Homo sapiens: one gene and its partner. Each later gene encodes a partner of the first gene's protein in a complex. Each region holds a gene or a part of one and is shown on either strand. Other genes may lie near its edges.

The links.
Region 2: the proteins of NKIRAS1 (region 1) and RALGAPA2 are in contact, whole or in part, in a crystal structure (PDB 9QU1), measured with the Homo sapiens proteins. Residues at the interface, in NP_001364280.1 of Homo sapiens: Lys6, Glu22, Leu24, Leu25, Tyr26, Glu34, Met39, Glu40, Asp41, Val42, Tyr43, Met44, Ala45, Ser46, Val47, Glu48, Lys54, Gln56, His58, Tyr60, His74, Tyr75, Ser77, Phe78, Lys108, Thr162; in NP_065076.2 of Homo sapiens: Pro20, Lys21, Tyr51, Ser52, Gln53, Phe56, Tyr59, Glu60, Ile63, Arg99, Phe102, Arg103, Trp104, His105, Tyr106, Gln107, Ser108, Lys185, Ile186, Tyr187, Pro188, Glu189.

Annotation. Positions count from the first base shown.
Region 1 is NC_000003.12:23,914,934-23,918,682, forward strand, and holds the start of NKIRAS1 (NF-kappa-B inhibitor-interacting Ras-like protein 1), read right to left. Parts: upstream 2,058-3,749; 5' UTR 1,851-2,057; exon of another isoform or gene 1,022-1,850; intron 681-1,021; exon of another isoform or gene 40-680; intron 1-39. Other genes in the region: RPL15 (large ribosomal subunit protein eL15), read left to right, coding at 2,927-3,098, 3,507-3,643. UniProt on the Homo sapiens protein: Atypical Ras-like protein that acts as a potent regulator of NF-kappa-B activity by preventing the degradation of NF-kappa-B inhibitor beta (NFKBIB) by most signals, explaining why NFKBIB is more resistant to degradation.
Region 2 is NC_000020.11:20,390,956-20,394,704, reverse strand, and holds part of RALGAPA2 (ral GTPase-activating protein subunit alpha-2), read left to right. Parts: exon of another isoform or gene 1-1,194; intron 1,195-1,451; coding exon of another isoform or gene 1,452-1,606; 3' UTR 1,607-3,749.

The sequences.
Region 1 (3,749 bases):
TCCTCACCTTTGAAATACATACAGGGCTGCACTACTTACCATTTTCATCACTACTGAAGTGGTCTGGGTGAGGCACCATGTTCTCTCACCTGGTCTCTCAAAGATATCGTAATCCCCCAAACCTGTGAATATGTTTACTTTACATACTCATACAAGAATTTTGCGGGGGTGATTAAATTAAGAACTTCCATACGAAGATATTATCCTGAATTATCTAGGTGGGCCCAGTGTAATCACAAGTGTCTTTATAAGAGACACACAGGAGTGCTGGAGAGGACAGAAGGTGTAATTGGAAGATGCTCCTTTGCTGGCTGTGAAGATGAAGGAAGCAGTCAGGAGCCAAGGAATTCAGGCAGGCTTCATAAGGTGGAAAAGCCAAGGAAATAAATGTACTCTCCCCTAGTACCTCCAGAAGGAACACAGCCCTACTGACTTTGGTTTTAGCTTGGTGATATTTACAGATTTACAGACCTAGTCTGATGTACAAACTAAAAGACGGTAAATTTGTATTATTAACCAACAAAGTTGCTGAAATTTGTTACAGGAGCAATGGAAGACTAACACAATTTCCTAAGCAGTCTCTCTGCTTCCATTTTTTCTCTCCTTTTAGCCTCAAAAGGAGCAATCCGAGTTATCTTTTTAAAATGTACGCCATATGAAGTCATCCTTCTGTTCAAAATCTGCCAATGAAATCCAAAGTCCATGTGAGAACCTTCACCTCTCCGACGTCATTTCCCACTTTCCCCTACTGTGAATTTCAGCCACACTGCTTCCCTGCTGTTCCTCTATTAATCTTGCATGCTCCAGTCATGGCTCTTCTCCCTCTGCCTGAATCAGACCCCTACTCTTACTCCCAGACTCCTATCCTTGAAGTCCTTTCTTAAATGTTACCTTCTCTCAAAGACTTAACCTGGACACTCCATTCCAAATTGCAACCCTCAGCCGCTAACACTCCCTCATCACTTCCCTCCCCTTATCTTTTTTCCTTAGCATTTACCACCAAACCCAAAACACAGCTTACTTCTGCTTACTGCCCATTTCCAAGAAGGCCAAAAATTCTGCGTTGTTTCCTGCTGCATCCCCAGCAACTATGCCTGGCACATATTAGACACTTAATAAATATTTGTTGAATCAATCAATGAACCAGATAGAGACTCTTAAAAACGTAAAGCTGTGATTTAAAAAGAAAGAAAGAAAAATATGATGTGGGAAAAAAGATAATCAAAACCGCTACGATTAAGAGATAATGATTCTCTTAAGCCTTTGCCACATCTGAACGCATAATCTGGAAGGAAATTAAAGCCACATGACTTAAATTAAAGCCAAGTGAAAATATTCTGGAGAAACAAAGTAAGCCAGTAACCTATTTCTCAATTTAAAAAAAAACCCGCAACGCAAAATGCCAGCATTTTCTCGGCATTTCTTCTCTAAAACATTCACACCTGCCAAACAGGTCTTGGCAAATAAACATTCTGCTCTTCTGAAAAACTGTGGTTCTCATGTTAGCAAATTTGGGACGAAATCCGTATGCAGAAAAAGCGCCGGGCCGCCCGCAATCCACCCACTCCATGACCCTTTTTTAGGACAAAATCCCTGGGCGCTGGGGCCTGCTGGAGGAGCTTCACGCAGTCTGGAGCTGAAGGGACACAGCGAGCGCCCCGACCCGCGACGCCCCGACTCCGCGAAGGCCTCCCTGGGAGGCTGGGGAAGCGTCGGGGGATCTCTCAGCGCAGCTCTGGGGCCCAGATTTCTGCGCCCGTCGTGCGGTGGCCAGAGAGGGACAGCGCAGCGCGGAGACGCGGAGACGCAGAGACTCCGCAGGGGGAGAGCCCGCGGTGCGTGAAACAAACCTGTTCTCTCCTCAGACCTCAAAGACAGCGGCTCCACCGCGGTACGCGGCCACCGGCTTTGGAGCCTGGACCCCAACTTGCCTCCTCTCGCGGAGAGACAGTCGCCGACGCTCGCTTAGCCGCCGAGACCTCGCCGCCAACTCTCTCACCTCTCGAGACGCCCAGGCCGCTCAGGCTCGAATCTTGCGGAGCAGGGGGCGGGACAATAGCGGCCGCGGCGCCCCACTCGGCAGAACTCCGCCACCAGGCGCGATGCCGGAACTACATGTCCCATGACGCTCTGGGAGGCCGCAGCTTTCCACCGGAAAGAGGGTGGCTGAGGTGGGGGAGGAGCCCAAAAGGCATTGTGGGAGTACAGCTCTTTCCTTTCCGTCTGGCGGCAGCCATCAGGTAGGCTGCGTTGAGGATCTTTGCTCTTCCATCCGCCTTTGATCGTCTTCCTCTTCAGCCATCCAGGTCCGGGGACCCTGCGTCCTCGGAGATAGGTCTCCCTCCTGTGCGGCCAGAGTTTGGTCAGGATGCGGGACAGCAAAGGGGTGGAGAGGCGGCCCCCGGGGCGGGTTGAGCGAAGATGTGATGGCGGCGCGAATTCGAGCTGGGCCCGGATCCTGGAGGAGGCGTGGGGCTGACGAATGGGGCGCCCGGGACAAGGCAGCCTAAAGTGAGGCTGCTGGTTGGGTGGGGTAGATGCATTTTCCTCGAGAGTTAATCCTCGGTGGCCGCAGCAGTACCTTGTCCTGTGATGTCAGCGGCATCTCCTTTCAGGTCCTCCTTGGGGACGCCGCCTGCCGCAGCCACCCGCCCCCTTGGTGCTCAGTTCTGGTTCTGTTAATTCGCCCCACCAAAACGTGCCGAGCACCGCTCTGTGCTGGGGTTGCGGAAGTGACTGAACGCGGCTCCGTGGGCGCAGTGGTGGGGGTTGGGCTAGCTGTCCCCGGCAGTTGGTGCAGAGCCATTTTCATTCCCGGCGGTTTCCTTGTTTTTGTTGGGGAACTAAGATGGACGGATACAGTCGTCTTATTGTACTTAAAGCGGATGATATTTAATACACAGTTTGATTTCACAGGTAAGCCAAGATGGGTGCATACAAGTACATCCAGGAGCTATGGAGAAAGAAGCAGTCTGATGTCATGCGCTTTCTTCTGAGGGTCCGCTGCTGGCAGTACCGCCAGCTCTCTGCTCTCCACAGGGCTCCCCGCCCCACCCGGCCTGATAAAGCGCGCCGACTGGGCTACAAGGCCAAGCAAGGTACGTGATCGACTGCGTGGATGCTTGGATAAAATTATATTCGAGAAAAGTTGGAAACCAGCTGTTAGGAAGACACTGCTGCCTCAGTGTCTTTCTTCGCATAGGGCTTTGGCAGAAAAAAGCTAGCAACACTGGTCAGTTACTGTATGCACTGTTGTCTAAAGTGGCAAGTGTGTCAAAGGTTACAAATCTGAATGAGTTCAGACTAAAGCAAAATAAACAGTGTGCCTCCCTGTGTGAGTAGCCTAAGGTGCATTGAAAAAGACTGGGATGTGTTTTATTTTTTTCTATTAGATAGCATTAACTTACTGTTGAAGTATTTTTGGTGGAGTATTAGTGACAAGCCATTGAGTCTTAAGCCTTACGGCTTCCTATAAAATCACTAATTTCGTGTGTGTTTGTGTGTAGGTTACGTTATATATAGGATTCGTGTTCGCCGTGGTGGCCGAAAACGCCCAGTTCCTAAGGGTGCAACTTACGGCAAGCCTGTCCATCATGGTGTTAACCAGCTAAAGTTTGCTCGAAGCCTTCAGTCCGTTGCAGAGGTAAATGGTTTTGAGTAGCAGTTATATTGAATACTGCCTGGGGATGGTGGGAGAGAGAGATTAAGCAACTTTTCTGATTGTACTTAGGTGAGCTGTCTCGTATATA
Region 2 (3,749 bases), on another chromosome or scaffold:
CTAGCTGTGCTGCCTTTGTCAGAAGCAGCCTGTTTTTGTGTTCTGAGGTTTTTCATGTGTGGTGTTTTTTTTTTGAGACTGGGTCTCACTTTGTCACCTAAGCTGGAGTGCAGTGAAGCCATCACTGCAGCCTTGACCTCCCAGGCTCAAAATCCTCTCACCTCAGCCTCCCAAGTAGCTGGGACTACAGGTGCGCACCACCATGCCTGGATAAGTTTTGCAATGTTTTTGTAGAGACGGGGTTTCACTGTGTTTCCCAGGCTGGTCTGGAACTCCTGGGCTGAAGCGATCCGCCCACCGCGCCCGGCTGCAGCCTGTTTTAAAGATGAGAATAGTGAGCCTTCTCTGTATGCCCGACCTGACTGAGCCTAGAAGAAGGGAGGCAACCATGAAGCCCCTGGACTCTGAAAGTACTGAATTTCAGGACACCCTGAGCCAGGCTGCCTCCATAGGTCCAAGCACGTTTGCAAGTATTGATTTTGGAAACTCCTCCTAGAAACAATAAGGGAAGGTCAGAGAATGAAAAAAGATGCGTCTGTGAATAAAATAACTGACTTAAATTAATTTCAAATGCCAATAATAATAATAATTTCAAAGGCCAAAGCCCTGCAAGTGAATCACGCAGGGAGGAAGATGTGGAAACTCTGCTTCTGAGGTTGGTTCCCAGCAGAGGTCATGCAGGAAACTTGGGGCATAATACAACAGGGTTTAAAAATACACTACGAGGGGAAGGGTGATGAAATGATCCTCTCGCTCGCAGAACGGTGCTAGGGGAGACCCAGCTCCACCCGCAACAGTGGCTTGGTGTTGCAGCAGGCATTCTTGTATTCCTCTGAGCACACCGACAGCAGCCCTGGGGAAGCGGGGGGTGCAGATGTGCAGGTTTTAATTTTATTCCTTTTCCCTCCAGTGATGAACAGCTGTATGCTCATCTGGACTCATTCAGACAAGCAATTTAGGACTGACCTCTAGTCTTAGACCCTTTGGGGAATAATCGAGTTGTAACTCATTGTGTAGAATATCGATATGTAAACACGTGGAGATTCCAGGAACACCGCCAGGGATCTGCAGAGCGGCCTCTGAAGTTTCACGGGCTTTTCCATTGACTCCAGCCACTGCTTCTTCAGTGGCTCTTCCTCCCTTTCACTGTGACCAGATGCCTTTTCTCTTCATTCTTTACTTATGAATTGGACAGTAAGTCTGAATTAATTTCACAAGATTCATAGCTTCTTTTATGCTGCAGAAAAGCCCAGGGCAAAGAATAAGAAGAAAGACATTCATGTGTTTATTCATTCAACAAACATCTTTGCCGGCATAGCGTGGGAGGAGGTCACCAGACCCTTCTCCTGGGAGTTTCCCTCCCTTCTGAGTGCCACAGATCCTCCCTGAAATGTGTGGCCGTAGAGCCGCCGTTGCCTCCATGACTTAGCAGTTCTCTGCTTCCTTTGCAGGGGCCCTGGCCTCCAGTCTGAGTGCTGACCTCGAAGAGCCCCTGAGTGAGGAGGAGACAGAACACCCTCTCCTGCCTCTGCCCCGAGCCACTAAACCCAGAATCTCCAGGAAATTTCGTTGCTGTACTAGTGCCCTCAGCAGGTCTTCCCATTAGTGGACTTCTGAAGCCCATGGTGAATCCCACTACCGTGTCTCAGATGGGACTCAAACTAGGCTGTATCATCTTGTCCTGAAACCTCACAAACCTTGGACTTCCAAAGAAGAAAAGAAAAAGTCACCAAAAACCAGAGATGAACCCACTGACACGTGGGCACTGGTGTGGCTGCTCTGGGCAGATGACAGCAGGAAAAGATTCTGCGCTTTCAGGGAGGGGGCAGAGGGCAGCTTGCTTCTGCACCCCAAGTTGTTTCTTCTCATTTATGAACCCAAGCATGATTCACAAAGGGGCTGGCAAAACAATTGTCTAATTGAGGAATCTGATCTGCATTGATTTTGCTAGTTCCTTTTATGTTAGGATTTATGGTTTACTCAAAAATTTCATCATCATGGAAATTGGCTTTCCCCGGGGTCTTTTGCCCAGGAGAAGTTTTACCTCAGTTGTCCAGTGTTTTCCCACATGGTACCTGACGCCCGCTAACTAAGCAGAGGCTCTCCTCACCACGCAGAGGCGCTTCAGGTCATGACAGTGATGCCCCTATCTTAGAACACTCAGAAGATTCCAGAAATACAGGGTCCTGTCCTTGCATAAGTTCCTGCAGGACAGGAAGTGTCCCAAGGCTCAAAACAACACAGACCACATCCACACAAAAGGCGCATGCCGGCTTCAGGCGCTAGGCTGAGACGGGTACCCCCCGAATGGCCTTGTGCCTCCAAAAGCCTCACGCTGCAACTTTGCTGCTCCTGTCTGTTGCCCAGAGAGGCCTCACACAGGCCTCAGAAATGTTTCTTGTCACACAAAGCTTTTGGTAGCCGATTCCAAGCGAGGGATTTAATCCTTACATTTTTGCCCATTTGGCTCCAAGGAAGGCTTATTAGACCTGTTTTTTTGTTGTTGTTGTTTTTTTTTCTTAAAAACAAAATGAATGAATGAATGAAAAGAGAAGCAATGGTGAGCCCTCTCCTGCTGGGGCGCCCTGGGTGGGCCTTGCCCGTCCTGCAGCAGAGAAATCAGTCAGCAGCGAAGAGCTGCTGGCGCAGGCCCCAGGCTGTGTCCTGGACCCTTGACCTGCCTCAGAGCTAGAGGTTTGCTCCACCCCGCACTTCACTTGGGAAGTAAATCCAAGAAGCTTACCAGAGTCCATCGCCACTGCGCAGGCTTTGTTCTCACAGCGGCCAGGTACAGAGCAACGCCCTGCAGTGGGAAGGGACAGCAGCACGAGAGACGCAGCCCCTAACTCAGGGCTTATGATGGGTGGGCTGGTCCTGGGAAAGGCGGGCCCTGTGCGGGAGGCCTCCCCACCTTCCTGTGCCCTCTGCCCTCTGCCCTTGCACACACTTGTTACCTTCAGGCTGCTTGGCCACCCAGGCCTGAAGAAGCCTTCTGAGGCTCTCACCCCATCAGAACGGCCATTTTCACTGAGGAGCCAGTTTTTTCCATTTGCCATGGAGCTGGTTTGGCTGGAACCTGGCCTTTGTAGGGAAAACGGGGAGACTCAGGAGCCAGACTCACTCTTGGGACAAATGAGAAAGAGCTGAGCCAGTCGTTCCTGTCGGAAGGGCGGGCCTGCTCATCCTGGCGAGAATTTGCTTTTCTGCTTTATAGGGGATTGCAGGCCAGGCCCACTGACAGGAGCACCTTGAGAACCACCTGAACAGAAGAGAATGAGGGTGCCCCAAAGTGGAAGGAAGCTTCTGGCCCCTGGGCCGTTTTGGGAAGGGCCCAGGATACTCACGGGGGCTGAAGGGCAATGTGAAGAGTGACTGCAAGTCCTGGCATTTTCTGTGGTGTCAGCAAATGCCCCTTTATTTTAAATGATTCCAGACATCTGGGCAGCATAGCTTGGCCACCATCACTCAGGCTTGATCCTGCTGTTGAGCTGCTCCTGTCTCCTGTTTACCTCACTCCTGTTGGGAAGGCCATCGCATGCTCCTAGGCTCCAGAGTCCCCTGTAGGTCTCTACCAGCAGGTCGCCTCTGGGAGAACGTTTCATCTTCAGGCTCTAGAAACTCCTGTTGCGGAATTGCTGGCTTTAGTAGAAAAGATATGTCAGGATTTAGAAATCGTATTGAACTCTCCTGGACTTCTGCTCCATGATTTCATTTTGCTTTCACGAACCAGCGATCCCTACCTTGGGGTG